4 linked regions of the Homo sapiens genome follow. The protein of the gene in region 3 purifies or fractionates together with the protein of the main gene of each other region. This does not show direct contact. Each region holds a gene or a part of one and is shown on either strand. Other genes may lie near its edges. The genes, in order: GPALPP1, NKTR, ZNF786 and PCDHA13.

What was found.
Region 1: the proteins of ZNF786 (region 3) and GPALPP1 purify together in Homo sapiens (affinity purification with mass spectrometry; 2 studies listed by BioGRID and IntAct, with this or other methods). This does not show direct contact.
Region 2: the proteins of ZNF786 (region 3) and NKTR purify together in Homo sapiens (affinity purification with mass spectrometry; 2 studies listed by BioGRID and IntAct, with this or other methods). This does not show direct contact.
Region 4: the proteins of ZNF786 (region 3) and PCDHA13 purify together in Homo sapiens (affinity purification with mass spectrometry; 2 studies listed by BioGRID and IntAct, with this or other methods). This does not show direct contact.

What each region holds. Positions count from the first base shown.
Region 1 is NC_000013.11:45,027,538-45,033,558, forward strand, and holds the end of GPALPP1 (GPALPP motifs-containing protein 1), read left to right. Parts: intron 1-247; coding exon 248-466; 3' UTR 467-2,768; downstream 2,769-6,021.
Region 2 is NC_000003.12:42,644,790-42,651,092, forward strand, and holds the end of NKTR (NK-tumor recognition protein), read left to right. Parts: intron 1-1,098; coding exon 1,099-1,186; 3' UTR 1,187-3,946; downstream 3,947-6,303. UniProt on the Homo sapiens protein: PPIase that catalyzes the cis-trans isomerization of proline imidic peptide bonds in oligopeptides and may therefore assist protein folding. Component of a putative tumor-recognition complex involved in the function of NK cells.
Region 3 is NC_000007.14:149,086,545-149,097,271, reverse strand, and holds the start of ZNF786 (zinc finger protein 786), read left to right. Parts: upstream 1-6,553; 5' UTR 6,554-6,631; coding exon 6,632-6,649; intron 6,650-10,727. UniProt on the Homo sapiens protein: May be involved in transcriptional regulation.
Region 4 is NC_000005.10:140,884,244-140,893,996, forward strand, and holds part of PCDHA13 (protocadherin alpha-13 isoform 1 precursor), read left to right. Parts: coding exon 1-419; coding exon of another isoform or gene 420-449; exon of another isoform or gene 450-637; intron 638-9,753. UniProt on the Homo sapiens protein: Potential calcium-dependent cell-adhesion protein. May be involved in the establishment and maintenance of specific neuronal connections in the brain.

The sequences.
Region 1 (6,021 bases), on a different chromosome or scaffold from region 3:
GCTCTTTCTTTCACACCCCGTTCTTGGTTTGTACTCTGATGTTTAGTATTTAAATAACCATAATGCTTTTCATTACATATTTTCTTTATAAATGCTGTCTTGGATTTGGAAAAAAAAAAACTACTGGGGTTTGTAAATAGCCCTCCTTAATGTGCACCATTACTATCTATTCCGTTTCATGGTCATATTCTGTCAATAATCTATATACAAACTATAGTTTTTATTTCTGCTCTCCTGCTCTCTCCAGGAATCAAAAAGATCAGAATCTCTTATGGACATACATCATAAAAAGTTAAAGAGTAAGGCTGCTGAAGACAAAAATAAGCCTCAAGAGAGAATACCATTTGACCGTGATAAAGATCTCAAGGTTAATCGGTTTGATGAAGCTCAGAAAAAAGCCCTAATAAAAAAATCTAGAGAACTAAACACCAGATTTTCACACGGCAAAGGCAATATGTTTTTATAAGTAAGTATATTTCAGTGAGGTATATTTTAATACTGATCAATGTGAACTTTTCTAAATACTCTATTGTCTTTAATAATTGTGCTGAAATCTATTTCCTTTTATAATAGATTAAAAATTTTATATTTTTATAAGTAAACAGTGATTTTTGAAAAGTCAGCCTTGTGGGATGAAAAATATGTCTTACTGGAAAAATCCCTCATAATAACCTAATAGGGCATTGCTATTAAAAATGCTAAAATAAAAATTCAGCTTATGAGAAATGGCAAAGGAAGGTGTGGTTTGATACTTGAGTAAATATGCATGCTTTATTAAAGATGAAGAAAGGCTTGCTGGTTGTTTGTATGTTAAACAAAATCCCAACTAGGAAATGTTTGTTGCTTAGAAAGGTCCCCTATAAGTTAAGGTTCAAAACTATTCCAATATTCATCCATAGCCCAATCTGACAAGGGTTCAGAATGGTGATTAAGAAATTACATAAAGCTGGGTGCAGTGGCTCACGCCTGTAATCCCAACACTTTGGGAGGCCAATGTGAGAGGATCGCTTGAGCCCAGTAGTTTGAGACCAGCCTGCTTAAGATGGTGAGACCCCGTATCTACAAAAAACTAACCAGGTGCAGTGGAGCACACCTATAGTCCCAGCTACTCAGCAGGCTGAGGTGGGAGGATCCCTTGAGCCCAGGAATTCAAGGCAGCAGTGAGCTGTGATTGTGCCATTGCACTCCAGTCTGGGCAACAAAGTGAGACCTCGTCTCTTTAGAAAAAAAAAAAGAGGCCAGTGGCTCACACCTGTAATCCCAGCACTTTGGGAGGGTGAGGCGGGTGGATCACCTGAGGTCAGGAGTTCGAGACCAGCCTGAACAACATGGTGAAACCCCATCTCTATTAAAAATATATATATATAAAAATTAGCCAGGTGTGGTGGCACGTGCCTGTAATCTCAGCTACTTGGGAGCCTGAGGCAGGAGAATTGCTTGAACCCGGGAGGTGGAGGTTACAGTGAGCCGAGATCGTGCCACTGCACTCTAGCCTAGGTGACAAGATCGAGAGACTCTGTCTCAAAAAAGAAAGAAAAAGAGAAGAAAAGAAATTACATAAAAGCTGAGGTTGCTTCTTAATATCTTTATGATTTTTAATTGTATTAAACCTATATCAATATTCAAATGTGATTTTTGAGGAAAATATGTTAAATTTAGAAATATTTTCCAACTTACTGAGTTTTCTTATTCTTACCTCAGGGGGATTTCCCTGTGCAATGAAGAAAAGTTGAAGAATACTCTTTGTCCATCTTTATTTCTTTGTTTTTGGCTTCTTAAGATTAGAGATTACTTTAATCTTAAAAAACATACAAATTTACCTTGTTCTGTATGTCCTTTTAAGGTCATGTGGAAACATAAAACGAATGTTTTTTATGTAGAACAGAATATTCTATGTGCCTTTAGCTTCTGTGGAAGTATGGGGAATTATGGGCTTTTCTTCAAATAATTATTTTAAGAGGCTTCCATTCCCCCTGATTTTTGTGGTGTCTCACAAGTACCCTCTAAGGTCTGGTCAGGACTGACCACCAAATCTCTACCACAGCCTGGACCTCCTTGTGAAATATACCTAACCTGCCCTAGAGTCAGTGTGTCAAGTCCTTACTGTAAATCCATGACTTTGAAATTTGTTGTTTTTTCCCTTTAAACTGCAGCCAGTGAATACAAATTTACTTGAAAATAGAGGGTATGGGGTTTTGCCTGTTTTGTAATCAGTTTGCTTGTTTTAGCACTCAGGGCTTTTTATTTGTTATTTAATTTTTTAATTGTTTTTAAGTCAGAAAGATCTCTGGGTTATCTCATGTGCTAAGGAAAAACTATTTTGCTTTTTCCAACTTTAATAGTTAGTATTTCTAGGGGAGGCAATCAAGATAAGATATGCCATTAACTGTTAGCATTGTGAAATCTGTAAGACTCAATCTCTGATCTCAACCAAAGCTTTCTGAGTCCTGGAACTTTGCTTTGGGACAACTTTACTTTACCCATTTATATGCTGTACTTAACAGTTTGTAGCTAATTTATGGGGTCATATCTTTTTTTTAGCTAATTTACGGGGGTCATATCAGTCATGAATAGCCTTTTTTAAAAATTTAATAATCCCTGAATACAAAAATGGAAATGGAAAATTTATAATCATAACCCCCCTAATTGGGAGTATTATAAGTTTGTAATGCTTTAAGCACTGCCTCTTAAGATGATAAATTTATAAGATGAGAAATTCTATTTAAACTATTAAACTATTGTTAAATAAATGCCAATTCTATAAGTTATATTTTCTTGCAGATTAATCCCAATTGTTCCACTAGTATTCTAGTTTTGATGAGACACAAATTTTTGTTGTTGTTTATTTTTGTTTTTTTGAGAGATGGAGTCTTGCTCTGTCACCCAGGCTGGAGTAGAGTGGCGTGATCTCAGCTTACTGCAACCTCCGCCTCCTGGGTTCAAGCGATTCTCCTGCCTCAGTGTCCCAAGTAGCTGGGACTACAGGCGTGCACCACCATGCTCAGCTAATTTTTGTATTTTTTAGTAGAGATGGGGTTTCACTATATATTGTTCCAGGCTGGTCTCGAACTCCAGACCTCAGGTGATCTACCTGCCTCGGCCTCCCAAAATGCTGGGATTACAGGCATCAGCCACCATGCCTGGCCAAGACACAAATTTTTAATGGAAAAATATTCTGATTCCCAGTTCATGTAAGCTTTATGAAAATTGAGTATATTGTTTATATGATGGTACAAATTATTCTTCCTCTAATAATAGCAGTACAGTATATTTTTTCCATAGCATCAGTGTAAACCATAGCAAACTAAAGGAGCATTGCTATTAAAAAGATGAATTAGCTGGGCGCAGTGGCTCATACCTATAATCCCAGCACTTTGGGAGGCCGAGGTGGGTGGATCACCTGAGGTCAGGAGTTCAAGACCAGCCTGACCAACATGGTGAAATCCTGTCTCTATTAAAAATATAAAAATTAGTCGGGCCTGGTGGCGGGTGCCTGTAATCCCAGCTACTCAGGAGGCTGAAGCAGGATAATTGCTTGAACCTAGGAGGCGGAGGTTGCAGTGAGCCAAGATCACACCATTGCATTCCAGCCTGGGCAACAAGAGTGAAACTCCATCTCTAAATAAATAAGTAAATAAATAGATGAATTTTTCTCCTAAGCAAATTGAAAAAGCTTCTTGTGTACTCAAAATTGAACAGAGCTACCTTTTGACTAAAAATGTCATTTTTAATGAGCAGTATTTTCTGAACACAAAATTTTGTACAAGAGTGTCTCCATTGCATTAATTTAATTTTGTTATAATTTTTTCCCAATGAAAGGAAAAAAGTATTTTGTAGCTCCTCTTCCTTATGTAAATTCTTAACATATATTTTTGAGAAATTTGCATTTTTTAAAGTAAAATTGTTATCTTTGGATACTTACTTTTCTTTGTTTTCCTCATTTAAAGAGAATAGGGATATTTCTGTATTATATATTTACTGTTTCATCCCTCACCTTTGGAGTGACCATGACCTTGGCATGAAGGAGAGAAACCTCTGCTTTCCGCCTATTGCTTCCAGGAGTTACTACCTTACTGGCCTTGGAGATAATGCTCTTTTGTGCCAACCTGAGGATAATTTTAACAAAATGTAAGGCCAGTTTCAGAGGTTGTTTTGCCCCACAGAGAGACTAATCCCAATACAAGAATATTGACAACAAAAGGACAAAGTAGTTATTGCACAGGACGGAAAGGTGTCTTTATTTCATCCCCTCCCCACTTCCAAAGATGCAAAAGGCCTAATTGAATCAAGTCTCCTTTCCATCTGGCAGGAGACATTTTAATAAGGACTTTTTAATTTCCTACATTTCTTGGCCAAGTGTCATAGGAATGTGGCCTCTTTTGAAATTTAAAAATGAAGAAGAAAAAAAGAGCAACACTAAGTTAATATAATGGAGCAGATACTTTTAATGTTCTTACCATTGAATATGCCATTTAAGTTTGTTATACTTGAAATTATATGATTTTTGTCCAGCTCTCTAAATTGTCATCTCCAATAGATTTAGATGCTTCAAATAGTAACCACATTACTGGTAAGTAAACGGTGGGGTTATTGGGTTTAGCAAGTGGGGAAGTAAGGGGTGAACAAAACACGAGAGATGGTGGCTACACCCCTACTAAGACTGCCTTACCAGATAAATGAAATCCTTTTTGTATTAGGCACAACATGGTAAATTAAGTCTTGCTCTAAAAAAAAAGAAAAAGAAAAAAGAGAAAAGCCCTGATCTAAGAGTTTTTAGATGCTAGCAACCTTGTTTAGATGTAGATCTTGTTTAGATGTAGCAACCACTTGACATTTAATTTATCATCTTAACCTTGAATGATTCTTTGTTTTGTTTTTTGTTATTGAGATGGAGTCTCACTCTTGCTGCCCAGGCTGGAGTGCAGTGGCGTGATCTCGGCTCACTGCAACCTCCACCTCCCGAGTTCAAGCGATTCTTCTGCCTCAGCCTCCCAAGTAGCTGGGACTACAGGCGCCCACCACCGTGCCCAGCTAATTTTTGTATTTTTAGTAGAGACGGGGTTTCACCATGTTAGTCAGGCTGGTCTCGAACTCCTGACCTCAGGTGATCCGCCCACCTCAGCCTCCCAAAGTGCTGGGATTACAGGCGTGAGCCACCGCGCCTGGCCTGAATGATTCTTTGTATTAACGATTTATTTAGAAGTGAGGTTGAGATTGGCCAGGTGCGGTGGCTCACGCCTGTAATTCTAGCACTTTGGGAGGCCAAGGCAGGCGGATTGCCTGAGCTCAGGAGTTTGAGACCCAGCCTGGGCAACATGGTGAAACCCTGTCTCTACTAAAATACAAAAAATTAGCTGGGCATGGCGGTGTGCGCCTGTAGTCCCAGCTACTCGGGAGGCTGAGGCAGAAGAATTGCTTGAACCCAGGAGGCGGAGGTTGCAGTGAGCCAAGATCGCGCCACTGCACTCCAGCCTGGGCGACAGAGCGAGACTCCATCTCCAAAAAAAAAAAAAAGTGAGGTTGAGATTTGCATGGTACCAAGGCTTACATGCTTCAGAATAGATCAATGGTTATTGTATAAGTAATTTTATCCTAAAACATTATGACATTTTTTGTTTCTTATTGAGGGTAGATAATGTTAATATTAAACTACTAATAGGAGGCCCTTATCACTTCTCTTTTCATTTTTTCCATGCAGTGATAGGTATTATTAGAAAAAAGTTATTTCTTGAGTTACACCTAAGAGGAAGAAGTAACATGATGGAAAGTGGTTGGAGATAGCACCCAATTAACATCGACAGCCAAGTCTTCTATTTCAGAATATTGATTTATTTCGCTTTGGCTTTTGATGCCATCATGAGATTTAAGTCTGCAGTTTCAAAAGCTCATGCTACTTAGATGATTTTTGCAGCTTAAAAAATTGCTTGTGACTGCAGTATGTACACAGTTAAAAAGCTGTTCACTGCCCCTTTCAACCTTTTCATTTTGAGCTTTACTAAGAGAATGCTTTTAGGAACAGAA
Region 2 (6,303 bases), on a different chromosome or scaffold from region 3:
ACCCTGCAGATCTCCACTGTCCCTGGGCAGCCCTCCCTGATGCCTAATCCTAGGATACAGTCCCTCCCATGTGCCTCTAAGACAGCCCTTTGCTCCTACTGTGGCTCCCCTTGCTCCTAAATTACTTGTCTTGCTGACTATTCTATTCTGTCCTTGAACCCCAGAGAACTATACTTGGTTTTGTGTCTTTGTGTGTGTGTGTGTGTGTTCCCAGCATCTTGCAAAATGCCTGGCTCACAGTGAATGTTTTTCAAAATAACTGAATGGGACCCATGACCAGGTCCTCTTGACTCAATATCCCAGTGGTCCTGTTCATGCCCAGGGCCACCCCCACCCCTCATTGGACCCCATTTTGGTTTCCATTCCTTGAGTGAAACTATTTGTGCACCTTTTCCCCATTACTTTTCTCAGGTAATCTATTCAAATATTGATACTCATTTTGGGTAATATGGGGAAACTATTCTGCTCATTGGTTTTTTGTTTTTGTGGTCCCAGCATTTGCATGAATGAATTTCACACAAATTTCCTAAGATGTGATGTTTCTTTATTTTATCTTAATCTTGACATTACTACAACTTGTCATTTAAAACAGCTTCAAAAAGTCCATAGTGTGAGTCGGGCACGGTGGCTCACGCCTGTAATCCCAGCACTTTGGGAGGCTGAGGCAGGTGGATCGTCTGAGGTCAGGAGTTGAAGACCAGCCTGGCCAACATAGTGAAACCCCGTCTCTACTAAATAAAAAAAATTAGCTGGGCGTGGTGGCGGGCACCTGTAATTGCAGCTACTAGGGAGGCTGAGGCAGGAGAATCACTTGAACCCGGGAGGTGGAGGTTGCAGTGAGTTGAGAGCATGCCGTTGCACTCCAACCTGGGCAAAAAGAGTGAAACTCCATCTCAAAAAGAAAAAGAAAAGTCCATGGTGTTGCCATAGTCAGTACCCTACCTCTGTGTTATGCTGCATCAATAGTGCATCAGTTATATGAGTGGCTTGAAAACACTATTGATGTTTTCAAGCCACTCATATAAAAAACAAGCTATAAGAGGAATTCAAAGATTTTACAGTTACAAGATTTTTATATATTTTGTTTTGTTATTACAGGAGTTGTAGATCTTATGGCTCTGACAGTGAAAGTGACCGAAGTTACTCTCATCACCGGAGCCCCAGTGAGAGCAGCAGATACAGTTGAAAACGTCCGGATACAAATTATATCTTATTTGTAAATATCTGGCAACTTAGCTTAAGAAATGTAATGACAGTCTGTTGTTCTATTTCAATATCAGAGGTGAATTTCAAAAATAGACACTTCTTAATTGTTACTGGTTCATTTACATGTGGGGAGAAGAATTTAAAATACAGATATGTCTCCTAAAAATATTTTTATGCCACATTTTACAGTAGCCAACTATGGAAATGAATTTCATTTTCTTGAATCAAGAAATCGTGAAATTTATCTATGTATAATTTGCAATATTATTTTAAGTCTATTTCACTCTATCTTACGTATCCCTTAGAATACAGATTCTTTTTGCCTGTTTTTCCAGTTTTAGCATATATGCTGCCAAGCATAGAACTGTGAAGGAGAACTGTTAAAGGCGGCCAAATATTTATATACTGATTACATAGAGTCTTGTACATATGTGCTCTAAAAACAAACCACCCAGAATTGATACTGTTGGTAACCAGGAGTATAAGGCAGTGGCTCTGGGGTTCTTAATTCATTCCTAACTTCTTTGATACTTCACAGGATTAGGAAAGTGGTCATCATACATCCCACACAGTCTGTATTACTTCAGGCTTGTGGGCAAGGTTAGGAAGAATCAATCAGCCTTAACTATAAATACCTGCACTGTCTCTGAGGACTTACTATTTTATGTTCTTTTTAATCAATACCGATCAGAAGTTTAGGTTATAAAAACAATTCTACTTCATGCTTTGGTGCTTGGTAATTTTTGGTGCGTCTTTAAGCATTACTCTTATATATCATATATTAAAATACCATAAAAATGAAATTCAGACAAAATCACTGGCACCAAAAATGGTTTATTCTGAGCTGTCTTCACTTTGACTATTTGGGGGGCTTCTCTCAAGTACAGATGTGGGTTGGGGTCCCCTGGAGCAGGCAGGATTGGCAGTAAGAGATATTGGCCACTCAAGTCTACTGTGTGTGTGTGCCTCTGGAAGAGTGAAGAATGGACTTCAAAAGTAACATCAAAAATCTAACTGCCACCATCCTGGAGACATTTTGCAGGGCTTTCCTTTCAAGTCTTTCAAGTACAGGATATTACCACAACAGCAGCTGAACTGTTGTAACCAGCATGTTTTTCCTATTTCCACTGTGACCTGCAGCTGACTCAAAGCCTTGCGTGACCTGACCCAGGTGCAAGAGACAGGGGAAGAGGGATAGAGGGTATAGCATAAATTACATATTTTCATGGCTTTGGGTGGTTCCTCCAAAAATAATTGGACCTGTAAAAACTAGTGTGTGTGTGTGTGTGTGTGTGTGTGTGTGTGTGGTTTTTTTTTTTAATCTTTACTTTGAATTTGTTCCCCAAGTGTACTTAATCACCTTAGTGCCAGTTTAATCCAGTTATGCAGAAGAAATTCATATTGGTTGCCTGATGTAGAGCTCAGCACCACCCTACCACAGGCCTTGTCTGGTGTATTTGGGAAGTGGAAAAGAGCCCTCAGTTGGAGGGAGCTGACAACCCTTGGTGGAGGGAGGGTGCCCTTGAATGTATTAAAACTATCACCCAAAGAAGGTATGAAAACAGGGTAAGGTGGTCAGTTGTTTGCCAGGTCAATAGACAGAAAGTACATTAGAAAACAGGACTTAGGCCAAACAAACAATACTGGATACTGAATACAAAACAGTATGATTTATATTAAAGGTTTCCAAAGGTTGCCTGCAAAGGAGAATATTACTACTAGTCAGCAGGAAAAAAATGCATTCAGAACCCAAGCAGAAACTGCCAAATGTAATTAGGTTAAGAAAAGTTACCCTTGGGCAGTGTATTAGTTTTCTATTGCTGTGTGACAAATTACCCCAAATTTAGCAGTTTAAAAAACAATACCCATAGCAGTTCTGTAGCTCATGAGTCTGGCACAGTGTGGCTGGATTCTCTGCTCAGGGTCTTAAAGGCTGAAATAAGGGTTGGCAGGACAACATTCCTTCATGGAGGCTCTGGGGAAGAATCTGCTTCTAAGTTCATTCAGGTTGTTGGCGGAATTCAGTTCTTTGCTGGCTCTCAGCTGGAGGCCCCTCTCTCACCTCAAGGCTGCCTGCATTCCTTCTTATGTGGTCCCCTCCAGCTTCAAACCAGCCTTCCTGCTCTTTCTCATGCTTCATATCTCTCTCCCGTCCTCCTGTTTTAGGGGCATATGATTAGCTCAAGCCCACAGATATATTTTAAGGTTGATTGTGCGATAGAACATAATTGCAGGAGTACTGTCTCATCTCATCATATTCACGGGTTCTGGAGATTAGCTCATTGAAAGTGGGAGGGGCATTTTCAAATTCTGCCTACCACAGGCAATAACTGCCCATCTCAGCTGTAGGTGGAATTTTTACCCAGAAAAGATAGGCCCTAGAAGCCTCATTTCTTTTCTCCATGGAAAAGGACAGCCCTCTGCTGCAGCGTTCAACTTGTGTGTTTACTGACAGAGTGAACTACAGAAATAGCTTTTCTTCCTAAAGGGGATTGTTCTACATTTTGAAGTTATTTTTTAATAAAATTGAATTATGTTGTGTATTGTGCTTCTTAATAGGAAATGCATTATTGGACTGTTTTTGTAACATCCTGTTTATTGCAAATAGCTAGTATCGTTCAAAAACTGTATAAAATACTTTTGTACATATTAGCAATGTCTAATTTGTATACACTTCAGTTAAATTTCCCTAAAACTTGAAAGGGGACCTTGTAGAAATTAAAATATATACTTAGTCTAAGTCTGAGTCTGTTCATGTTTTATCTTTCTGCTGACCCAGCCAGTGAAGACACCTCATCTCCTTTGGCAGCTCCTTTTCTTCTCCTAGCTGAGTGTTAGTGGTGGGTGTAGGAGGTGGAGCTAGAGAGAATGTCAGGCAGAGATTTTAACCTACACAGGTAAGCATTAATGATGTTTGGTCTTCCTCCCCTGGAAAATCCAGATTTCCTCTACACTTTGTTGTCATCTAGTTAAAATGACCTGCATAAAGATGTCTTTGCTGAGGGAGGAATATGTCACATCCCATGTGTGAGTTTCTACCTAGAGACAGTCCATTTACCTACAGCCTCTACATTTCCCTCCCTAACGGCAGCGCACTAGGCAGTGCAGCACATGTCACTCACTCCCAGAGAAAACATTCATGGTGATATTTTTAGTATACACATAAGAATTTGCAGGGGAAGTACAATTAACTTTTGTCTCCTCAGAACTGAAAGGAATGTCTATTTTCTTAGTGAATACAACATAACTTATTGTAGTTAACTTCTCACTGCAGATACTCAGTTTTTAAACTGAGTTAACAGTGGACTCCTTAGTTGGGCAACTCCTGAAATTTGTCAAATCTGGATGCATTCCTTTAAAATGTAAAGAAAATGCAGGATCAAGTTCTGATAGTGGTAAACTTGATAGTTGGGCAGTATTGGGGGGAAAATGTGCCAAGGACTTTGGTCTTGACTCTTCTGAATTAGCTGGGCATTAAATAGGCGGGAAGGTAATTCAAGGAAAATGCCCCTCTTGCAAGAGATTATGGACACTAACTGGGCATCACTGTTTAGAAGAGACGGGAGGTGGCCAGGCATGGTGGCTCACGCCTGTAATCCCAGCACTTTGGGAGGCCAAGGCGGGTGGATCACTTGAGGTCAGGAGTTTGAGACCAGCCTGGCCAACATGGTGAAATCCCGTCTCCACTGGAAAAAAAAAAAGAGGCTCTACTCAGTTTTTCAAGGCAAATGCTGAGCCTTGAAGGAGTGTTGCAAACTAATGTGGTCAGGTGAAAGGATGTGGAAGCCATGCCTCACAAGGTGAAACGGACTGGGTTCAGATTTCCGGAGAACTCTGGTTTTTGGAACAGAGAATCAAGTCTGCTGTTCCCCACAGTGAGGCAAGAGCCTGCAGGCCCATGAGGGCCTTGTGGTAGAATGAGCTGGGAAGACAGCAGGGAGAAGTTCTTTGATGCAGTAAAGGCCCCTCAGGAGTCCAGAGGTGTCAGGGGAGGACGCTGGGTACCCTGAAAGAACACCTGTTCATCTCAGGACAGACTGGGAAGCTTGTCGGGGCCTGGTAAGTGCAAGGCAAGGAGAGCCTGCCCTGGCCACATACACACAGGGCTAGGAGGCTTTAGTGGTCTGTTTTCTTTCAAAGTTTCAGTACAAGGTAGAGATAGTGCTCCCTTGCTGCTGCCTCCACTCCTCACTGTGAATCAGAAGGCCCCAGGTAGGCCTGCTGCCTCTTGGAGACCCCAGACCCACCACTTACTATAGCCCATCAAACTCCAGCTCCCTAGACTGAGCTGAGCTTCACAGCCTGCAGAACCCAGGCTAGCTTGGAGAGGGTTGCATCTCTTCAGCCCAGAGCCTTGAGGACATCAGGGTAAAAGGAGTGGCCACCTATATTTCTAGTGCTTTAGGAGGCCTAGGCAGGAGGATTGCTTGAGGCCAAGAGTTCAAGACCAGTCTGGACAACATAGCAAGACTATTAAGACAAGAACAGAACAAAAAGCAGCTGGGCATGCTGATGCACACCTGTAGTCCCAGCTACTCAGAGGGCTGAGGTGGGAGGATCACTTGAGCCTAGGAGGTGGAGACTACAGTGAGCCATGATTGCATCTCTGCCCAGCTTGGGCAACAAAGCAAGACCCTGTCTGAGAAACAACAAATGGAGTGACCTGAGGTCTCAGGACAAACACCTGCATTCTGCATCTTGAGCCCTGATCCTGGGCCTCCTATGGCTCATAAACCCCTGAAAGAGGGTATACATGACTGGCACACTCAGACATGAGAGACAACCAGGGGTGCTCATCCCTTCCCAGCCTGCAGACGAGTCTGCCTCCCAGTGGACCTGGCCCACAGGGGTTGGGTGTATAGGCTGGCACTTCACCAGCCTCTGGTCACCTAGGACCTCTAGCAACTAAAATCTCCCATCAGGCCAGGTTCCCAGAGAAAGCCTAAGAAGAGTCCCCACTGACCTCAATGCCTCCAGCCTAATTTGGTTTTATTTTGAAGAAGCAGGGGGACTTCTATGAGCAACTATGCTATGGTACAATCGTTAAGGTCTCTGGGCCAGAACCAGGCTGCTTGGGTTCAAGTTCAACTCTGCCAC
Region 3 (10,727 bases):
TCTAAATTCCTTCCTCTAAAGCACTCCCCACTGAAACTCTGTCTGCTTCCCCTCATAGCCTGAACCCCTGGAGGGCATCTGTATGCTCTTGTTTTTGCATTTTCTCCACTTAACACACACCTGACATAGAAGACATTCTAGGGCTAAGCGTGGTGGCACACCCAGTTACTTGAGAGGCTGAGGTGAGAGGGTCGCTTGAGCTCAGGAGGTTGAGGCCAGCCTGGAGGACATAGCAAGAGCCCGTTTCTAAAAGGAAGAAAAACAAGACATTCTAGAAATTCTTCTTGAATGGTCAGAAGGAGCGATGAATTGGGTTTTGGGTACTGAGGATAGAAAGGATGGATATGAAAAAAAGGTAAAGAAGATTAAGCAGGGTTTGGTGACTGGGTCACATGAGGGAGAAATCAAACATTCTTGAAATCATGTCTTTCAGTCCCACTAGATGGGAAAGGAATGTATGTACATTTCAAAGCTGTCACAGGTGATTCTGACATGCTAATTTTGTATCATTACTCTTCCTCTCCCATTTTCTTTCCAAACAGTGAATTTGAGAAAAACCACTCAAAAATTTTTTTTTCTTTTTTCTTTTTTTTTCGAGATGGCTGTCACCCAAGCTGGAGTGCAGTGGCACAATCTTGTGCAGCTGTCACCCAAGCTGGAGTGCAGCATCACCCAAGCTGTCACTGTGTCACCCAAGTTGGAGTGCAGTGTGGCGCAATCTTGGCTCATTGCAACCTCTGCCTCCCGGGTTCAAGCGATTCTCCTGCCTCAGCCTCCTGAACAGCTGGGACTACAGGTGTGCACACCATGCCTGGCTACTTTTTGTATTTTTAGTAGAGACGGGGTTTCACCATGTTGGCCAGGCTGGTCTCGAACTCCTGACCTCAGGTGATCTGCCCACCTCGGCCTCCCAAAGTGCTGGGATTACAGGCATGAGCCACCACACCCGGCCTGCAGTTAAAATTTTATGTCTTCTTCCTAAAACTAAAGACTATTTCATAGTTAGGATTTTTGCTGGGTGGGGTGTTTCAAAGGTTTCTATTTGACATGTTCAGTTGTCAGTGCCCTGCACTGTAGGCTTTCTCTTTTATTTTATTTTTTAATTTTTTTTTTTATTTTTTGAGATGGAGTCTCACTCTGTCGCCTAGGCTGGAGTGCAGTGGCGTGATCTCGGCTCACTGCAACCTCCACCCTCCGAGTTCAAGCGATTCTCCTGCCTCAGCCTCCCAAGTAGCTGGGATTACGGATGCCTGCCACTGTGCCCGGCTAATTTTTTTTTGTATTTTTAGTAGAGACGGGGTTTCACCATCTTGGCCAGGCTGGTCTTGAACTCCTGATCTCGTGATCCACCCACCTCGGCCTCCCAAAGTGCTGGGATTACAGGCGTGAGCCACTGTGCCCGACCTCTCTTTTCTTTTTTAAATAGAGACAGGGTCTTGCCATGTTGCCCAGGCTAGTCTTGAACTCCTGGCCTCAAGTTATCCTCTGCTGCCTTCGCCTCCTAAAGTGCTGGGATTAAACCAGTGAAACATGAGGCACAGCCCACTGTAGGCTTTCTACTCCTTAGAACATCTGACAATACCAGCTACTATGGAGAATATGGAGCAACTAGAGTTCTCACACATTGCTGATGGGAATGCAAAACAGCATCATGCCATTCTAGAAAATGATTTGTTTCTTATAAATATGTACTTACTGAATGACCAGCAATCCCACTCTTGGGTATTTATCCTAGACAAATGAAAACCTCTGTTCACACAAAAACATGTACATGACATGGCCAGGTGTGGTGACTCACGCCTGTAATCCCAGCACTTTGGGAGGCCGAGGCAGGCGGATCGCGAGGTCAGGAGATCGAGACCATCCTGGCTAACATGGTGAAACCCTGTCTCTACTAAAAATACAAAAAAAAAAAAAAAAAAAAAAAAAAAAGTAGCCGGGCGTGGTGGCGGGCGCCTGTAGTCCCAGCTACTCTGGAGGCTGAGGCAGGAGAATGGCATGGACCTGGGAGGCAGAGCCTGCAGTGAGCCAAGATCGCGCCACTGCACTCCAGCCTGGCCTACAGAGCGAGACTCCATCTCAAAAAAAAAAGAAAAAAACACTTACATGAATGTTTGCAGCAGCTCCCTTCAGAATTGCTAAAATTTGGAACAATCCAAATGTCCTTTGATGAACGGTGGCTATACAAACTGTGATACATCCATAGTACTAATGCATTTTTTTCTTTTCTTTTGAGACAAAGTCTCCCTCTGTCGCCCAGGCTGGATTGCAGTGGTGTGATCTCCACTCACTACAACCTCTGCCTCCCGGGTTCAAGTGATTCTCCTACCTCAGCCTCACAAGCAGCTGGGACTACGGGCAGGCGTTATCACGCCTAGCTAATTTTTGTATTTTTAGTAGAGACAGGTTTTTGTCATGATGGCCAGGCTGGTCTGAAACTCCTGATCTCAAGTGATGCGCCCACCTCGGCCTCCCAAAGTGCTGGGATTACAGGAATGAGCCACTGTGCCTGGCCTGCATTTATTTTTCTTTTTGGAGACAGGGGTCTCGCTATATTGCCCAGGCTGGCCATGAACTCTTGGGCTTAAGGGATCCTCCCACCTCAGGATCCCTTGAGGGGACCTACAGGTGAGAGCCACTACAGCTGGTGCTCCTTAATAACATTGATACAGATAACAATGTGGATGAATCTCAAAGGTATAGTGAGTTGAAGTATGTTGTAAACTTTTATAAGTCTCAAAAGGTTACATACTGTATAATTCCGTTTATATGACATTCTTGAAAGGTAAAACTATAGGGACAGAAATAAATCAGCCCTTGCTAGGGGTTACAGATATAGGAAGGGAGGTGGATCAAAAGACATTACAAGATGGCTGGGCACAGTGGCTCTCACCTATAATCCCAGCACTTTGGGAGGCCCAGGCAGAGGATCACTTGAGGCCAGGATTTTGAGACCAGACTGGGAAACATAGCAAGACCCTGTCTCTACACTTTTTTTTCTTTTTTTTGAGACAGAGTCTTGCTCGGTTGCCCAGGCTGGAGTGCAATGGCGTGATCTTGGCTCAATGCAACCTCCGCCTCCTGGGTTCAAGTGATTCTCCCACCTCAGCCTTCCCAGTAGCTGGGATTACAGGCACCTGCCATTATGCCTGGCTAGTTTTGTTTTATTTTTTGAGATGGAGTCTCGCTCTGTTGCTCAGGCCAGAGTGCAGTGGCGTGATCTCGGCTCACTGCAACCTCCACCTCCAGGGTTCAAGTGATTCTTCTGCCCCAGCCTCCCGAGTAGCTAGGATTACAGGCGCGTGCCACCACGCCCGGCTAATTTTTGTATTTTTAGTAGAGACGGGGTTTCACCATGTTGGCCAGGCTGGTCTAGAACTCCTGACTTCAGGTGATCCGCCTGCCTCAGCCTCCCAAAATGCTGGGATTACAGGCGTAAGCCACCGCGCCGGACCAACAATTTTTTAAAAAACAAAACAAAAAAGCTATTTAAGGGCATTTTAGAGGGTGATGAAACTTCCAATAGCCTTGTAACCGGGCCCCTTGAGACTTCAGCATTCTGCAGTTCTTAAGGACTGAATAAATGAAAATTCTGATCAGGCCCTTGCTTGTTTGCATGTTTTAACCACTTGCTTTTTGCCCAATATTCCTTGTTCTCACAATATAATTACATACTGCTGATGTACTGTTTGATTGTCAAGGAGAAGGAGATAACTTCAGGGTCATGAAAAATTGTTGCAGGGGGAATGCCTTCAGGGTCGTTGTGGCCAGCCCCTGACGCCCAGAAGCCTGATTGCTCAAGGTGTTATCAGAGACTGAAGAAACACAGACTTTCCCCCTTGGTTCCCTGAAACTCCCCCTCCCTTACTCTCTAGCCCCATAAAAACTCCCTGCTTCCTTTTGTTAAGACAGATTTTAGAGATTTGCTCTGCTGCCTTCTCGCTTTGGCCAAATCAATGAAACCTTTTTGCATCTCCAAGCACCGGTGTCTCAGTGTTTGGCCTCAGCTGCCCATGAGGTACACAAGCCTGATTTTGGGGTTTTACAACAGCCTGATTATGATGTCAGTTACATGTTTATGCATATGTTAAAATTTGGAGTTCTATGTAGTAGTATAGAAGTTATACTTCTATATAACTTACAGTTATAAAAAAAGTTAATAGTTAAAAGTTCATGGCAGGGTGCAGTGGCTCACACCTGTAATCCCAGCACTTTGGGAGGCCGAGGTGGGCGGATCACGAGGTTAGGAGATGGAGACCATCCTGACTAACACGGTGAAATCCCGTCTCTACTAAAAATACGAAAAATTAGCGGGGCAGGCATGGTGGCATGCGCCTGTAATCTCAGCTACTCGCGAGGGTGAAGCAGGTTTTTTTGTTTTTTGGTTTTTTTTTTTTGAGACAGAGTCTCGCTCTGTCGCCCAGGCTGGAGTGCAGTGGTGCGATCTCAGCTTACTGCAAGCTCCGCCTCCCGGGTTCACACCATTCTCCTGCCTCAGCCTCTAGAGTAGCTGGAACTACAGGCGCCCGCCACCTCGCCCGGCTAATTTTTTGTATTTTTAGTAGAGACGGGGTTTCACCGTGTTAGCCAGGATGGTCTCGATCTCCTGACCTCGTGATCCGCCCGCCTCGGCCTCCCAAAGTGCTGGGATTACAGGCCTGAGCCACCGCGCCCGGCCAGCAGGAGAATCACTTGAACCCAGAGGCTGCAATGAGCTGAGATCGTGCCACTGCACTCCAACCTGGGCAACAAGGGCAAGACTTCGTCTAAAAAAAAAAAAAAAAAGTTCATAGCAGTATACATTAAAAAATTGTACTGTATACACTTCGGGAGGCCGAGGCGGGTGGATCACCTGAGGTTGGGAGTTCGAGACCAGCCTGACCAACATGGCGAAACCCCGTCTCTACTAAAATACAAAAAATTAGCCGGGCATGGTGGCGCGTGCCTGTAGTCCCAGCTACTCGGGAGGCTGCGGCAGGAGAATAGCTTGAACCCGGGAGGCGGAGGTTGCAGTGAGCCGACATCCCACCACTGCACTCCAGCCTGGCGACAGAGCAAGACTCTGTCTCAAAAAAAAAAAAAAAAAAAAAAAAAAAAAAGCCAGGCGCGGTGGCTCACGCCTGTAATCCCAACACTTGGGGAGGCCGAGGCAGGTAGATCACAAGGTCAGGAGTTTGAGGCCAGCCTGACCAACATGGTGAAACCTCGTCTCTACTAAAAATACAAAAATTAGCCGGGCGTGGTGGCAAATGCCTGTAATCCCAGCTACTCGGGAGGCTGAGGCAGGAGAATTGCTTGAATCCAGGAGACAGAGGTTGCAGTGAGCCGAGATTGCGCCACAGCACTCCAGCCTGGGTGACAAGAGTGAGACTTTGTCTCCAAAAAAAAAAAATTGTACTGTATAACAGTTGTAAAAATAAAAAACGTTAAACAGTAAGGTGCATGTACATTTCACGATTCTGTGGCAAACACAGATGCGTATATGCTCCTCAGCCTACGCAGGGACTATTTTATTTCTTATGCACATCCTCTCCAAACTACACACTTTTCCTTTGCTACTTCAGCCTGACACCTAAGACATGACTAAGACAGAATGCGAGGTTGATTTTCTGGAGACAATCGCCACCCCCTTCCTCGCCCTCTCTCCTTTCTGTCTCTTCCTGGTTTCCCCACCTCTCCCCTGTTCTTGCGTTCTCGTGTTTCTCACGCCCTGTGTCATGGCCTCCTCCGTCTTCTCCTCCTACTCTGTCTCTGTCTCCTGCCGGGGCCCGGGGTGCCCGACCGCAGCCTTGGGCCACCCTGAGTCCCTGCAGGCGGCCCTGAGGCCGGGGTGGCTTCCGCATGGGGTCTCTGCCCAAGGCCGTTCTCTGCTAAGGAAGGAGCGTGGCCGCCCGGGGAGCCCGGAGGGCTCTAGACCCACGGCGACCGGACCTGGTGGGCGGACCCCGCCTCCGCGTCCCCGGCGGGACAAGCATGGGGCCCCCACGGCCTCCGCGCCCCCGGCGGGACGGATGCCCCGGGCCACCGCGGGCAGCGCGCGCCCCCCACCCACTTTCCGGCCTCGCTGGATTCCCGGGACCCCCTCACAGACGAAGCCTGTCTCGGGGGCGGCTTTGGGAGGAACCGCACCGGAGGTTCCCCTCTCGCTGCCTCTCAGTCTGGGTTTCTGTGGAGCGCGTCTCCCTGTCCCTGTCCCTGATCTCTCCCTGTCCCTGTCCCTGATCTCTCCATGTCCTGCCCCTCCGTTTCCCCTCCGGCCAGCTCCTCAGCTTGTCTCTGACCGCTTCCCTCCCCAGATCCCGGGAATCCGAGGGTCCCTCAAAGACCGGCGTGCTGCGGCCTGCTCTGAGGGCGCCCGGGCCCCTGGGTCCCTCCTCTGAGGACCGACGCTCAGGCAGCGCCGCTTCTTCCTCCCGCAGGAGGCGCTGTAGGACTGAGCGGCAGCCGCGGCCGGGCGCCGGGTCCCAGCATGCACCGCGCCCGGCCGGCGCTGCGTTTGGGGGCCACCCGGGCTGTGCGTGGGAGTCGGGTTGGGGCGGAGCGGAGGGGAGTCAGTGCGCAGCAGGGCAGGTTCCTGCGGAGCCGCCGGAGACGGTCGGGTTTGCCAGGGCCGGGCGGGACCGCGGGGACCATGGCGGAGCCGCCTCGGGTAAGCGGGCTAGCCTGTTTGGACGCCCGGTTTCGGGGTCGTGGTGGGTCCTCGGGTTCCGGGCTCGCCCGTGTCCTGGGGTCCCCGTGAGTGCGCGCGGTGCACGGGTAGGACGGAGTCTGCAGGCTGCTTCTGCTGGGGATGTGGATTCCGGGCCCTGCGGTGAGCAGGTGGCCTCCGCTCCCGCGGCTTGTCCGTGGCCAAACCCCTGGACAAAGCCGAGCGTGGACCGAGGCCGACCTAGGAGCGGGGCGGAGCCTGGGCGAGGATGCCGGGCGGACGGGGAGCGGACGGTGGAAAGGATAGAAAGGTTTGGGGCCAGAGGTGGATGTTACAGGTCAACCAGTTTTACATCATAGTCACCGAAATCAGAACAACTGTTCCAAAAAGTTTAAGATTCCGAATGGTTGAAATGGTGTTTGGCGGGGGCTTCAATGTCAGAATTTATTGTCTAGCGTGATTTGGGTTGAGTGTAAGATGATACGTTGGGAAGAGTAGAAGAGGATACAAAAAATTAAGTTAGTGGTTTCTTAAAATCGAGGTTTAGAGGGTATTTTTATCTTGTAAACTTTAATGTTGAGGATTTTTGCTGATTATTAAATGAATTAGGCCGGGCGCGGTGGCTCACGCCTGTAATCCCAGCACTTTGGGAGGCCGAGGCGGGTGGATCACGTGAGGTCGGGAGTTCGAGACCAGCCTGGCCAACATGGTGAAACCCCAACTCTACTAAAAATACAAAAAATTAGCCTGGCATGATGGCGGGCGCCTGTAATCCCAGCTACTCGGGAGGCTCAGGCAGGAGAATTGTTTGAACCCGGGAGACGGAGGTTGCAGTGAGCCGAGACTGCACCATTGCACTCCAGCCTGGGCAACAAGAGCGAAACTCCGTCTCCAAAAATATATACATACCTATATATATGGGGAAAGGATATAAACAGCCAAATCACAGACCTGAAAATAAATTATTAATGAGTAAAAGAATGGATTTTAAAACTTGTGACATTCAGGCCAGGCGCCGTGGTTTACGCCTGTAATCCCAGCACTTTGAGAGGCCGAGGTGGGCAGATCACTTGACGTCAGGAGTTCAAGACCAGCCTGGCCAACATGGCGAAAAACTGTCTCTACTAAAAAATACGAAAATTAGCTGAGTGTGGTGGCGGACGCCTGTAATCCCAGCTCCTCGGGAGGCTGAGGTAGGGAGAATTGCTTGAACTCGGGAGGTGGAGGTTGCAGCGAACTGAGATGGCGCCACTGCACTCCAGCCTGGGCGACAGAGCGAGACTCTATCTCAAAAACAAACAAACTTGTGACATTCAGACGGTGGAACACTATACAAAATTAAAATAAATTAGCTACATATATGATCAACAGGGCCGGGCGTGGTGGCTCACGCCTCTAATCCCAGCACTTTGGGAGGCCAAGGCGGGCGGATCACGAGATCAGGAGATCGAGACCATCCTAGCTAACACGGTGAAACCCCGTCTCTACTAAAAATACAAAAACAAAAATTAGCTGGGCGTGTGGGCGGGAGCCTGTAGTCCCAGCTGCTCGGGAGGCTGAGGCGGGAGAACCCGGGAGGCGGAGCTTGCAGCGAGCCGAGATCGCGCCACTGCACTCCAGCCTGGGCGACAGAGCAAGACTCTGTCTCCAAAAAAAAAAAAAAAAGAAACTCAACAGGGCCAGATCCCAAAATGTTGAGGGAAGAATACAAGTATAATAAAGTATTTACGTATAAAAGACACAAAGTAATACTGAATATTTACAGATACATATATGTATTAAAATGAACTGGAAAGTTCCCATATTATTTATAATGTTTGCCTTTACAAAGGAAGGAGAATGTGACAATATCAGAACATGATTGAAGAGAGGAACCACAAGAACTTGAGTTTCACCGGTCACATTCTATTTCATTAAAAGGAACTCTGAAGAAAAATGTTAAACTTGTTAAGTCAGTGGTGAATACTAGGATGCTTATAGTTTTCTCTGTAACTCTCTGGATTTTTAAACTTCTAAAAATTAAAAAAGTTTTAAAAGTAAGGAATTTTAATCAGAGAAGAGGAGAGAATGAGTATCTTTAACACAAGTATAAACATACGTTCAGTTCTGCAATAATACAGCATATGCATTTCTAAAAATCATAGTGCTATGCAAAATTGTGCAATAAAAACCACAGAGCTTATTGGGAGAAATGTTACACATACAATACTCAAACTTTAATCAGTGATGTGTTGAAAGAACCTAAAAGCAGTTTTATGCACTTTAATGAGTAATAAATTATCTCAATTGCCTTAAAAACTGCCTGAAATAAGCCTGGGCAGGCCAGGCGTGGTGGCTCACACCTGTAATCCCAGCACTTTGGGAGGTCCAGGTGGGCAGATCACCTGAGGTCAGGAATTCAAGACCAGCCTGGCCAACATGGTGAAATCTCATCTCTACTAAAAATAAAAAAATTAGCTGGACGTGGTGGCGGGCACCTGTAATCCCAGATACTCGAGAGGCTGAGGCAGGAGAATCACTTGAACCTCGGAGGCGGAGGTTGCAGTGAGCTGAGATCGTGTCAATGCATTCCAGCCTGGGTGACAGAGCAAGACTCGGTCTCGAAAGAAAGACAAAAAAAAAAAAAAAAGCCTGGGCAACATGGTGAGACCCCTCTCTACAGAAAATTAGCCAGGTGTGGTGGCATATCCCTGTGGTCCTAGCTACTCGGGAGGCTAAGGCAACAGAATCACTTGAGCCCAGGAGATCAAAGCTATGGTAAGCTGTGTTGGCACCACTGCACTCTGGCCTGGGCAACAGAGACCCCCGTTTCAAAAAAAAAAAAAACCTAAAAGAACTACCTGAAATGTGCTTGTGGAAGTGGGCATAGCAAGGGTTGCAGTTTGTGAGCTATTGTGAAGTGGTGAAAGGAAGGTTATCTGAAATGAGATGGAAAGTTGTGACCCCGGAGGTGAATGGGTAGGGCTCATAACACAGGGTAATCTGATGTTTGAAGTGTGTTGCATGTGTGCATTTTGCGTATGTCTATGCAGCCCAGTTCTGTTTGTTCACATAGTACAAAGTTTCTCACCCTTGCCACTACTAACATCCTGTGCTGGATAATTTTCTGTTTTGCAGGCTGTCCTGCGCATCGTAGGATGTTTATCACTATTCTTGGCTGCTACGCACTAGATGCCCATAGGCCACCCCGCTTCCCCACATTATAACAATAAAAAATGTTGCCAGGGGACAAAATTGTTCTGATTGAGAACCACTAATCTAGTGTTTCTTATAGACAGAATTGCACATAAGCAAATGCAAAATTTTGTAATATATTGTCTCCTAATAATCATGTTGGAACAAATTCACATTTCAAAACAAGGATTATAGCAGAAATGACTATATTTCCTTAAAGTTAAAATAATGAATTTCTGATTTAAGTGTTGCTATATCTGCAGTTTGGATATTTGTCCCTAAATCTCATGTCAAAATTGGATTTGCGGCTGGGCACAGTGGCTCACGCCTGTAATCCCAGCACTTTGGGAGGCTGAGGCAGGTGGATCACCTGAGGTCAGGAGTTCAAGACCAGCCTGACCAACAAGGTGAAACCCTGCCTCTACTAAAAATACAAAAATTAGCCGAGCATGTTGGCAGGCGCCTGTAGTCCCAGCTGCTTGGGAGGCCAAGACAGAATTGCTTGAACCTGGGAGGTGGAGGCTGCAGTGAGCTGAGATCGTGCCACTGCATTTCAGCCTGCCTGGGCGATGGAGCAAGACTCTATCTCAAAAAAAAAAAAAAAGGATCTGCGCTGTTGGAAGTGGGCTGTAATGGGAGGTGTTTAGGTCATGGGGGGTGGATCCCTCATGAATGTCTTGGTGCTGTCCTCTATTAGTTCCTGAGGGAGCTGGTTAAAAAGAGCCTGACATCCCCCCTTCTGTCTTGCTTCTTCTTGCCATGTGATCTGTGCACATGCCAGCTCACCTTTTGTGTGTATGTGTGTGTGTGTGTGTGTGTGTGAGACAGAGTGTCGCTCTGTCACCCACGCTGGAGTGCAATGGTGTGATACTGGCTCACTGCAATCTCTGCCTCCTGGGTTCAA
Region 4 (9,753 bases), on a different chromosome or scaffold from region 3:
TGACGGCCACGGCAACGGTGCTGTTGTCGCTGGTGGAGAGCGGCCAAGCGCCACAGGCTTCGTCGAGGGCGTCGGCAGGCGCTGTGGGTCCAGAAGCGGCGCTGGTGGATGTCAATGTTTACTTGATCATTGCCATCTGCGCGGTGTCCAGCCTGTTGGTGCTCACGTTGCTGCTGTATACTGCGCTGCGGTGCTCGGCACCGCCCACCGAGGGCGCGTGCGCGCCGGGCAAGCCCACTCTAGTGTGCTCCAGCGCGGCAGGGAGTTGGTCGTACTCGCAGCAGAGGCGGCCGAGGGTGTGCTCTGGGGAGGGCCCGCATAAGACGGACCTCATGGCCTTCAGTCCCAGCCTTCCTCCTTGTCTGGGTTCTGCAGAGGGAACAGGCCAGAGGGAGGAGGACTCAGAATGCTTGAAAGAGGTAAGCTTATATTTTAAAAAATTGTCTTAGTAAACACTTTAGCCTTCCTTGCAGTTGTTTGTTTAAGACATCTTTCCTGCCAATTTCAAATTATTCTTTACTTTAATTTTAATTTTGCTAGTTGTTATCGAATTTAACAACTCTGCTGTGGACATTATGTGTTGGATTATCCTTCAGAGTGAAATCTTAACTCACAAACCATAATGAAATGTGCAAAACAAGAATATTTTGTTTCTGTTGTATTCTTAATAGTTCTAAGTATTTATCTTGCAATTGAGCATTTACAAAAAATTCCTCACGTTGTGAGAACTTAAACATTTAGAAAATGTTTGTTTTAATGAGGCTAATCGTAATCTTAAATTTAAAAAATTTTTAGTTTAATGTATACATATACCCACAAGATATTATTTTAAAGAGCCCCATAACTTTTCACATAAATGCTTTTTTTAAGTGCACTTTTCTTTCTTTCTTTTTTTAAACTGTTTTGATTGTCTCTACTTTTTTGTCCTCTAGGCACATCAGTGTTCCCCTCTCATATATCCCATGAAAAATATCTTGTGATTCTGCTTTCAATTTTTTATTTGCATTCAGATAATTACTCATACATATATATATACATATATAGAGAGAGACCTGGTAGGCTTTTTGTTATTATTTCTTTTCCAAAGTTTGAAGGGATTTCCAAAAGGTACTGGTGACTGAAAGTACCTTTTGGCAGTCCCTGCAAATCTAATGGTTTTAATAGCTGTGTAGTATTCCACAGTGTAAGTGTGCAATTATATATTATTTACCTAATGATGGGCAATCACTTTGTGTCAAGTGTTCTGTTATCTTCATGAACCATGCTGTGCTATCATTTCATATATTTCCCAAAATATTGGTGTTATTTCTACGAAATTGATTGTCAGATGTGGAATTGATGCATCAAAGATATTAATAATTTTAATTATAAAATATGTCACTGGATTGCCTTCCAAGTATTTTGGAACCAACCAGTTATGAGCACTCTTTCTATCTCAAGAAGCAATAGTGGTTTTACTTTCTGCTAATGTGATCTCTGTGAAATGATATTTCACTGTTACTTTAATTTTAAATTCCTGTATAGTATTAGTGAATTTGAGCATATTGTCATATGTATTTTGTTGATTTGTATTTGATCTTCTTTGATTTATCCATTAAGTTATTTGCCTACTTTTCTATTGAAAAAAAATTTTTAGTTTCAGTTTGGAAAAGTTCTCTGTACCTTATAGATATTAACTGTTTATCTATTTTTTGACATTTTTAATTAAAATTTTTATTTTGAGATAATTATAGATTCGCATGTGGTTGAAAGAAATAGTAAAGGGAGATGCTATGTATTCTTCACTAAGTTTTCCCCAATAGTAACATCTTACAAAAGCGTAGGGCCATACCACAACCTGGATATTGACATTGATACAGTAAAGAAGTAACATAGTTCCGTAACAACCAGATTCTTGATATCACCTTTTTATAGCCACATCTGCTTCCCTGCCTAATGCTGGCAAGCAGTAATCTGTTCTCCATTTCTCTAATTTTGTTACTTTTACTTCAGAAATAAATAAAAGTATCTCTATTTATAGATAAAATTTTTTAAAATTATTTTTATATTTATTTATTTTTTATTACACTTTAAGTTCTGGGATACATGTGCAGAACGTGCAGGTTTGTTACATAGGTGTACATGCCATGGTGTGCTTATCTATTATCTGCATCACAAATATGTTTTCCTCCTATATTATTTCTATTCATTTGTTTGTACTAATTTTGTCATATATAAATGTTTTTAAAATGTATGAATTAAAATATATCTTTTTCCTTTTATGGATTTTAAGGTCTGCATATTCAGTTAGAAAGGTCTTCCCAGCTGGGCACGGTGGCTCACGCCTGTAATCCCAGCACTTTGGGAGGCCAAGGTGGGCGGATCAGGAGATCAGGAGTCCGAGACCAGCCTGGCCAACATGGTGAAACCCTGTCTCTACTAAAAATACAAAAATTAGCGAGGCATGGTGGCACGCGCCTGTAATCCCAGCTACTTGGGAGGCTGAAGCAAGAGAATTGCTTGAACCCGGGAGGTGGAGGTTGCAGTGAGATGAGATCATGCTACTGTACTCCAGCTCTGGGTGACAGAGCAAGACTTCGTCTTGAAAAAAAAAAAAAAAAAAAAGAAAGGTCTTCCCAACTCCTATATTGAACATTCATTAATTAAATGCATTTAATAAATACTTATTGAGTGTTCTCTATGTGCCAGGCATGTTCTACACATTAGACATTTAGCAACGAAATTTATTATTTTGTAAATCCAAATTTCCAGTTGGTATCACTTTCCTACTGCCTGAAAAATTTCTTTAATATTTTTTATAGTGCATATGTTCTGGCAACAAATTCACTCAGCTTTTGTCTGAGAAATATCTTTATCTCTTTTTTTTTTTTTGAGACGGAGTCTCACTCTGTCGCCCAGGCTGGAGTACAGTGGCGTGATCTCGGCTCACTGCAAGCTCCACCTCCCGGGTTCACGCCATTCTCCTGCCTCAGCCTCCCGAGTAGCTGAGACTACCGGCGCCCGCCACCACGCCCTGCTAATTTTTTGTATTTTTAGTAGAGATGGGGTTTCATCTTGTTAGCCAGGATAGTCTCGAACTCCTGACCTCGTGATCCACCTGGCTCGGCCTCCCAAAGTGCTGGGATTACAGGTGTGAGCCACCGCGCCCGGCTCTTTATCTCATTTTTATTTTTGAAAAAGTATTTTCACTGGGCATAGTTGACAGTTTTTTAAAAGATATAATTCAGTTGTCTTCTGGCTTGCATAGTTTCTAATAAGATGTTTGCTTTTTTATATATGAGTCTTCCTCTCCCCACCCCTCATGGTTACTGTTAAAACTTTTCTTTTTATCCTGACTTTTGCAGATTGATTGTGATGTGCTTTAGTATGGTTTTCTTTATGTTAGTCTGTTGGGGTTTGTTGATATTCTTGGATCTGTGGATTTATCATTTTCATCAAATTCAGGAAAAAATCAACCATACTTCTTCTAATAGTTTTTTCTTTCCTTCCATCCTTTCTGAGACTCCAGTAACACATATGTTACAATGACACAGGTCATTGAAGCGTTCTTTATTTTTGTCCATTTCTTTCTCTGTGCCTCATTTTGAATATCTTTTATTGACATATTTTCCAAGTTCACTAATTTTTCCTTTTGTAGTATCATATCTGTTAATCCTAAACAGTGTATTCTTCATTTCAGAGACCATATTTATTTCTTATCTGTATAAGATTCTTTTTGTCTCTTTTAAAATTTATTTTACATGTCTCCACCGAATAGTCATCTTTTTATCTATATGTTTGAGCATATTAGTACATGTATAATAGATGTTTTAACTTTCTTGTCTGCTAATTTCAACATTTTTGTCCTTAGTTTGCTTCTTTTAATCTATCTTCTTCTATGGATATATTTTCTTGCTGTTTTGCATGACTGGTAATCTCTAATAAGATGCTAGACATTGTGAATTTTACATTGTCGGATGCTGGATTTTGTGTGTGTGTGCATGTGTGTGCGTGTTCCTTTAAAGCAGTAGTTCTTGATAAGAAACAGTTTTGTCCCCTCTACCCCCTACCCAGGAGATAATTTGGCAATGCCTGGATACATTTTTGGTTATTACAACTAGGGAATTGCTACTGGCATCTAATAATGGAGCTCTGAGATGCTGCTAAACACCATCCAATTGCTGCCAAACATCCTACCGTGCACAGGACAGCCGCCCAACAATAAAGAATTAGCTCAAAATGTCAGTAGTTCCACTGTTGAGAAACTCTGCTTTAAAGAGTCTTGGACTTAGTTCTGACGTGAAGTTAAGTTGCTCAGTACCAATTTATTCCTTTCAAGGCTTCATTTTAAGATTTGTTAGTACACATTCAGAGCAGCTTTTAGTGTAGCACTAATTCGGCCTTCTATTACAGCAATACTTTCCTGAGGACACCACCTAATGCCCTGTGCATTAAGAGGTCTCTCTTCTCTGATTGGTAGGAATGTGAAATATTTCCAGCCCTTTGTGAGCTCTAGGAATTATTCTACCCACTTTTTTTTTTAATTTTGAAGGGATAGCCTGATCTGGGGAGGTTGATCAGTGATCTGTGATCTGTGATCACATCACTCCACTGCAGCCTGGTGACAGAGTGAGACCATGTCTCAACATAAAAATTAAAACATTAGAATTGAGGTTTAATGTTATCAAATATTTTATCTGCATCTTTTGAGGGAGGTATAAATTTTTTCTTTGGCAATGTTAATGTGTTGAATTTATGATTTATGATTTTCTTATGGCAAACCAACCTCTACTTCCTTGGATAACCGTAATTTGATTATAATTTATAATCCTTTTAATATACTACTTATTTTGTTAAATTTTCAAAACAATTTTTTCATCTTTATTCCAGGTGATACTGATATGTCCTAGTTTTTCTTCCTAATTTCTTCTTTGTTAAGTATTCAAGTTATAAATAAGAATCTAGCATAACTTGAATACTTAACAAAGAAGAATAGTCTTTGAAAACTTCCAGAAAATTTTCTGTTTCCTGTAAAAGTTTGTATAATCTTTGAATTACTTCTTATTTGATTGGAGAACTCACTGTTGAAGTTATCTGTATCAGGATTTTGATTGGTGGGAATATTTCTGATTACTGACTCAATTTTAATAGTATAAGGACCATTCAGAGTTTAATTTACTCGAGTCAGTTACGTAGATAATATTTTTTCAGGTATTTTCCTGTTTAATCTAAATTTTCAGTTATATGCTCATACTTTCTACAGAATCTATAGTGATATTTCCCTTTCCATTCTTGATATTATTTTTGCTTCCTGTCTAATTTACTTTTCTTCAGAATTCTGCTTTCTGATTTTTGTTTTTGCTTTGAAATATTTTTATATTAATTATACTGATTCATTTCTCTTCTTTTCATTTGTGTTTGCAGGAGATGTCCTCTTCCCAGCCTTTTATTTTAAACCTTTTAGTATTATGGGCATATTCCACAAGTTCTTTGCTACTGTCTCACTGAGTAGCAGAGTCTAATTTTTCTTTCCTTGAACTTTGACTGGTCTTAATATTGGAAGTAACATTCTGGGATTTATGAAGTCAGGTCATAAGAAGTCTTACAGTATGCTTTGGTCTCTGAGAATATTTGTTTTGGGGGAAGCCTGCCACCATGTAAGAATTCTGACTACCTTGAGATTGTCATACTGTAAAGAAGCTCAAGCTGGACTTGTGAGAAGCCAAATGGATAGAAAAATTACTATCCAGTCTCCAGTTGTCTTAGCTTTCCAAGCTTAGGTGCCAGAAAAATGTAGAAGGCTTCAGGTGACTGTAGTGTGTTGGAGCTGGCTCTTTTACTGGCTTATGAGAACTGATAATGCAAATTTATTCCCAACTCTGGATTCAATGATGTCACTTTGGTAGCTTGAAATTGGCCATGGTAGGAGTATTTCTGCCACAGAAATAGGCAAATGCTACAAAACAGAGTTTTTTGTTTTTCTTTTTTCCCAGAGACCTAGTTGTTAAGCATTTACCAGTACACTACTGCACCTGATTGCAAGCAAGAACCACTCAGTTGAGTCAGAACCAGGAGAGGTAATATTAAGTTGTTTTAAGATATTAGGTAGTTGGGATGGTTTACTATATAGCAATGGATAACCTGAACAAGTACTCTTTCTTAGATAATCTATAAATTTTAACTTGAATATTTATTTAGTTTATATTTACAATACCTAGTGATATCTTTAGGCACAAATATTTCAATTTTTTGTGCGTTATTTTTGTCTCACCATTTTTATGTCTCTATTTCCTTCCTTTGTTGATCTTCTTTTGAAATGACTGAGTACTTTTTATTGTTCCATTTCCTTCTGTATTATTTGGAAGCCCTTTTCCGAATAGCTAGTGCTTACCCTAGAAAATTAAGCATGTATCCTTGATATATCAAAATCAAAAGTTAACTGAAACCCTTCCTCCTTCTGGGAAATGCAGGGACCTTACATTTTTAAAATCTTTTTAATCCCTTTTGACTTATATACTATTTCTGTCATGCTTTAAAAATATTTTAAAACCCCATAAGATATTAGTATTATTTTATACAATCAACATTGTTTTAAATGTACTTACATATTTACCAGTTTTGTTTCTCTTCCTTACTTCTTGCCCCTCTGACCTTTCATCAGGGATTATTGTCTTTCCATGTTAGAATAATTTGAGAGTTTCCTTTAGTCCAAAGATGCTGGTGAGGAATGATTTCAGGTTTTGTTTTTCTGAAAATGTCTTTATTTCATCATAATTATTGAAAAGCATTTTTTCTGAGGGTATAATCTTAGGTGTGACCCCCACAGCACATAGTAAATATTATTCCAGTGTCTACTGGTTTCCATTGTTGCTGTCAAGAATTTAGCTGTCAATCTAAATGTCATTCCTTTAAAGGTATTCTGTTTATTTTCCTTTGGCTGCTTTTCAGATTTTCTGTGTGTCTGATATTTTGCAGTTTTACCATGCTGTGTCTTTATAATCATCCTGTTCTGGATTCAGTAGGATTTTTTTTAATTTTTAATTTTTCCGTAAGTTATTGGGGGTACAGGTGGTATTTGATTACATGAGTAAGTTCTTTGGTGGTGATTTGTGAGATTTTGGTGCATCCATCACCTGAGCAGTATACATTGCACCATATTTGCAATCTTTTATCCCTCGCCACCCCCCACTCTTGCCCCCAAGTCCCCAACGTCCATTGTATAGGATTTTTGAATTTGTGAATTAATGCCTTTACATCACTTTGAGCATATCCTCAGCTATAATGTTCTCCAATGTTGCTTCTGTTCCATTGTATTTCTATAGTATTATTTTAGTACTCTAATTAAACATATTTTAATCTTATTACTCTATCCCATCTATTTCTACCTTTTATTTTAACACCTTTTGCTCTTTGGGCTTTATTGTGGATAGTTCACCCACCTTAAAGTTTAATAATTCTCTCTTCTTGCTGTTGTCTGAATTTGTACCCCCAAATTCATGTGTTGAAAATTCAATCCCTTATACAACAGTGTTGGGAGGTGGGGAATTTCAGGAAATGTTTAGATTATGAGGGATCTGCCCTCATGAATAAATTAACGGCACTGTAAAAGGACTTGATGGAAGGAGCCTGTCCCTCTCTTATGCTTTTGGCTCTGTCATGTGACGATGCAGCAAGAAGATCTTCACCAGATGCTGGTGCCTTGATCTTGGACTTCCCCTAGGCTCCAGAATTGTGAGAAGTAAATTTCCGTTCTCATAAATTACTCAGTCTGTGGCATTCTGTTATAGCAGCACAAATGGTCTAAGATACTTTTATTTATTCTTTTTCAAATTTATTGTTACTTTGTATAATTTCTAGTTTCCTCTCGAAACTTTCAAGCTTGGCATTTATATCTGGAACACAATAAGCTCATGGTTTTAGCGTCTATTTCTGATATGTCCAGTAACTGGGATCCTCATGGGTCTATTCCTGTGGTGTGTTTTAAAATTGTATCTTTATGGTGTTTTGTCTCCACATAAACCTGGTTATCTTTGATTTTGTGCTGAAAGTTGTATTAAACACTTCTTCCTGGAAATAATTTGGGGCTTATAACATTTTCTTTCTCCAGAATGGATTTTAATTGACTTTTGCCAGGCATCTTGGGGCACTAGCAATCATGGGTAATCTTAATCTATTTCAAGCTTCAGGTATTCTAGATAAAACCTCATTATCTAAAATTTACATGTATTCTTTAAGTACGGTTATTCAGTTTCCTAGCCAAACATGAGAGATTGTTTAAGAAGTTCCACCATGACTGGTAGACTCAGGATTCTGACTTTTGTTTCTCTAGTCCTTGGAGACTGTCAAAAGTATATCTCAGTATTCATTCACCTATTTTTTTCCTTTTATTTCCAGTTGGTACATAATAATTGTACATATTTATAGGATACAGAGTGACATTTTGATACATATATACAATGTATAATAATAAAATCAGGGTAATTAGCATATTCATAATCTCAAACATTTACCATTTTTGCATGGTGAACATTTAAAATCCACTCTTCTAGCTTCTTGAAAATATGTAAGAAATTATAGTTAACCATATTTATCCTACAGTGCTACAGTGCTGCAAAACACCACAACCCATTCCTCCTGTGTAGCTATAATTTCGTATCCATTAACCAACCTTTCCCCATCCTCCTTTTCCTTCACCCTTCCCAGCCTCTGATAAGCACAATACTACTTCCATGAGCTCAATAAAATTTTGTAGCTGCCGTATAAGTGAGAACATGTATTTATTTTTCTGTGCCTGACTTATTTCACTTAACATATGCCCTCCAGGCTCAGCCATACTGCCATGAATAACAGGATTTCATTCTTTTTTATGGCTGGATAATATTCCGTTGTGCATATACACCACATTTTCTTTATCCACTCATCTGTTGATGGATATTGAGGTTGATTCCACATAGTAGCTATTGTGAATAGTGCTGCAGTAAGTATGGGAGGTGCAGGTATCACTTTGACATACTGGTTTCCTTTTCTTTGGATAAATGCCCAATAGTGGAATTGCTGGATGATATGGTAGTTCTATTTGTAGTTTTTTGAGGGACTCCCATACTGTTTTCCTTAGTGGCAGTGCTAATTTACATGCCCACCAACAGCATTTATGGGACAGTGGCTCATGCCTGTAATCCCAGCACTTAGGGAGGCAGAGGCAGGAAGATCGCTTGAAGCCAGGAGTTCAAGACCAGCCTGGGCAACATAGCAAGACCCTGTTCTTCACAAAAAAGAAAAAAAAAGCAGTTGTAGAACTCCTTTAAGTATTTCTTGTAGGACTTATCTAGTTGTAGTGTACTTCCTCAGTTTTTGCTTGTTTGGGAAATACTTTATTTCTCCTTCATTTCTGAAGTATAGCTCTGCTTGGTATAGTATTTTTGGCTGATAGTTTTAAAAAATTTCAGCACTTTGGATATATCATCTCATTCTATCCTAGCCTGTAAAGCTTCTGCTGAGAAATCTGCTGTTAGTCTGATGGGAATTTTCTTATAGGTGACTTGTCACTTTTCTTTTACCGTTTTTAGAATTCCCTCCTTGTCTTGAGTCTGGTACCGTAGACTACTCAGCCATCCTGATGCCCTACCTCTTGTATAGAAACAACCCAGATCCAAAGTGGCCAGAAAGTTACTTTACCTTCTGAATTTGTGGTCTTTTTCAGAATCTCTACCTGTTAATTCTGCATGACTTTATTAGTCATTAGATACTTTTATAATTTTAAAATATCTCCAATTG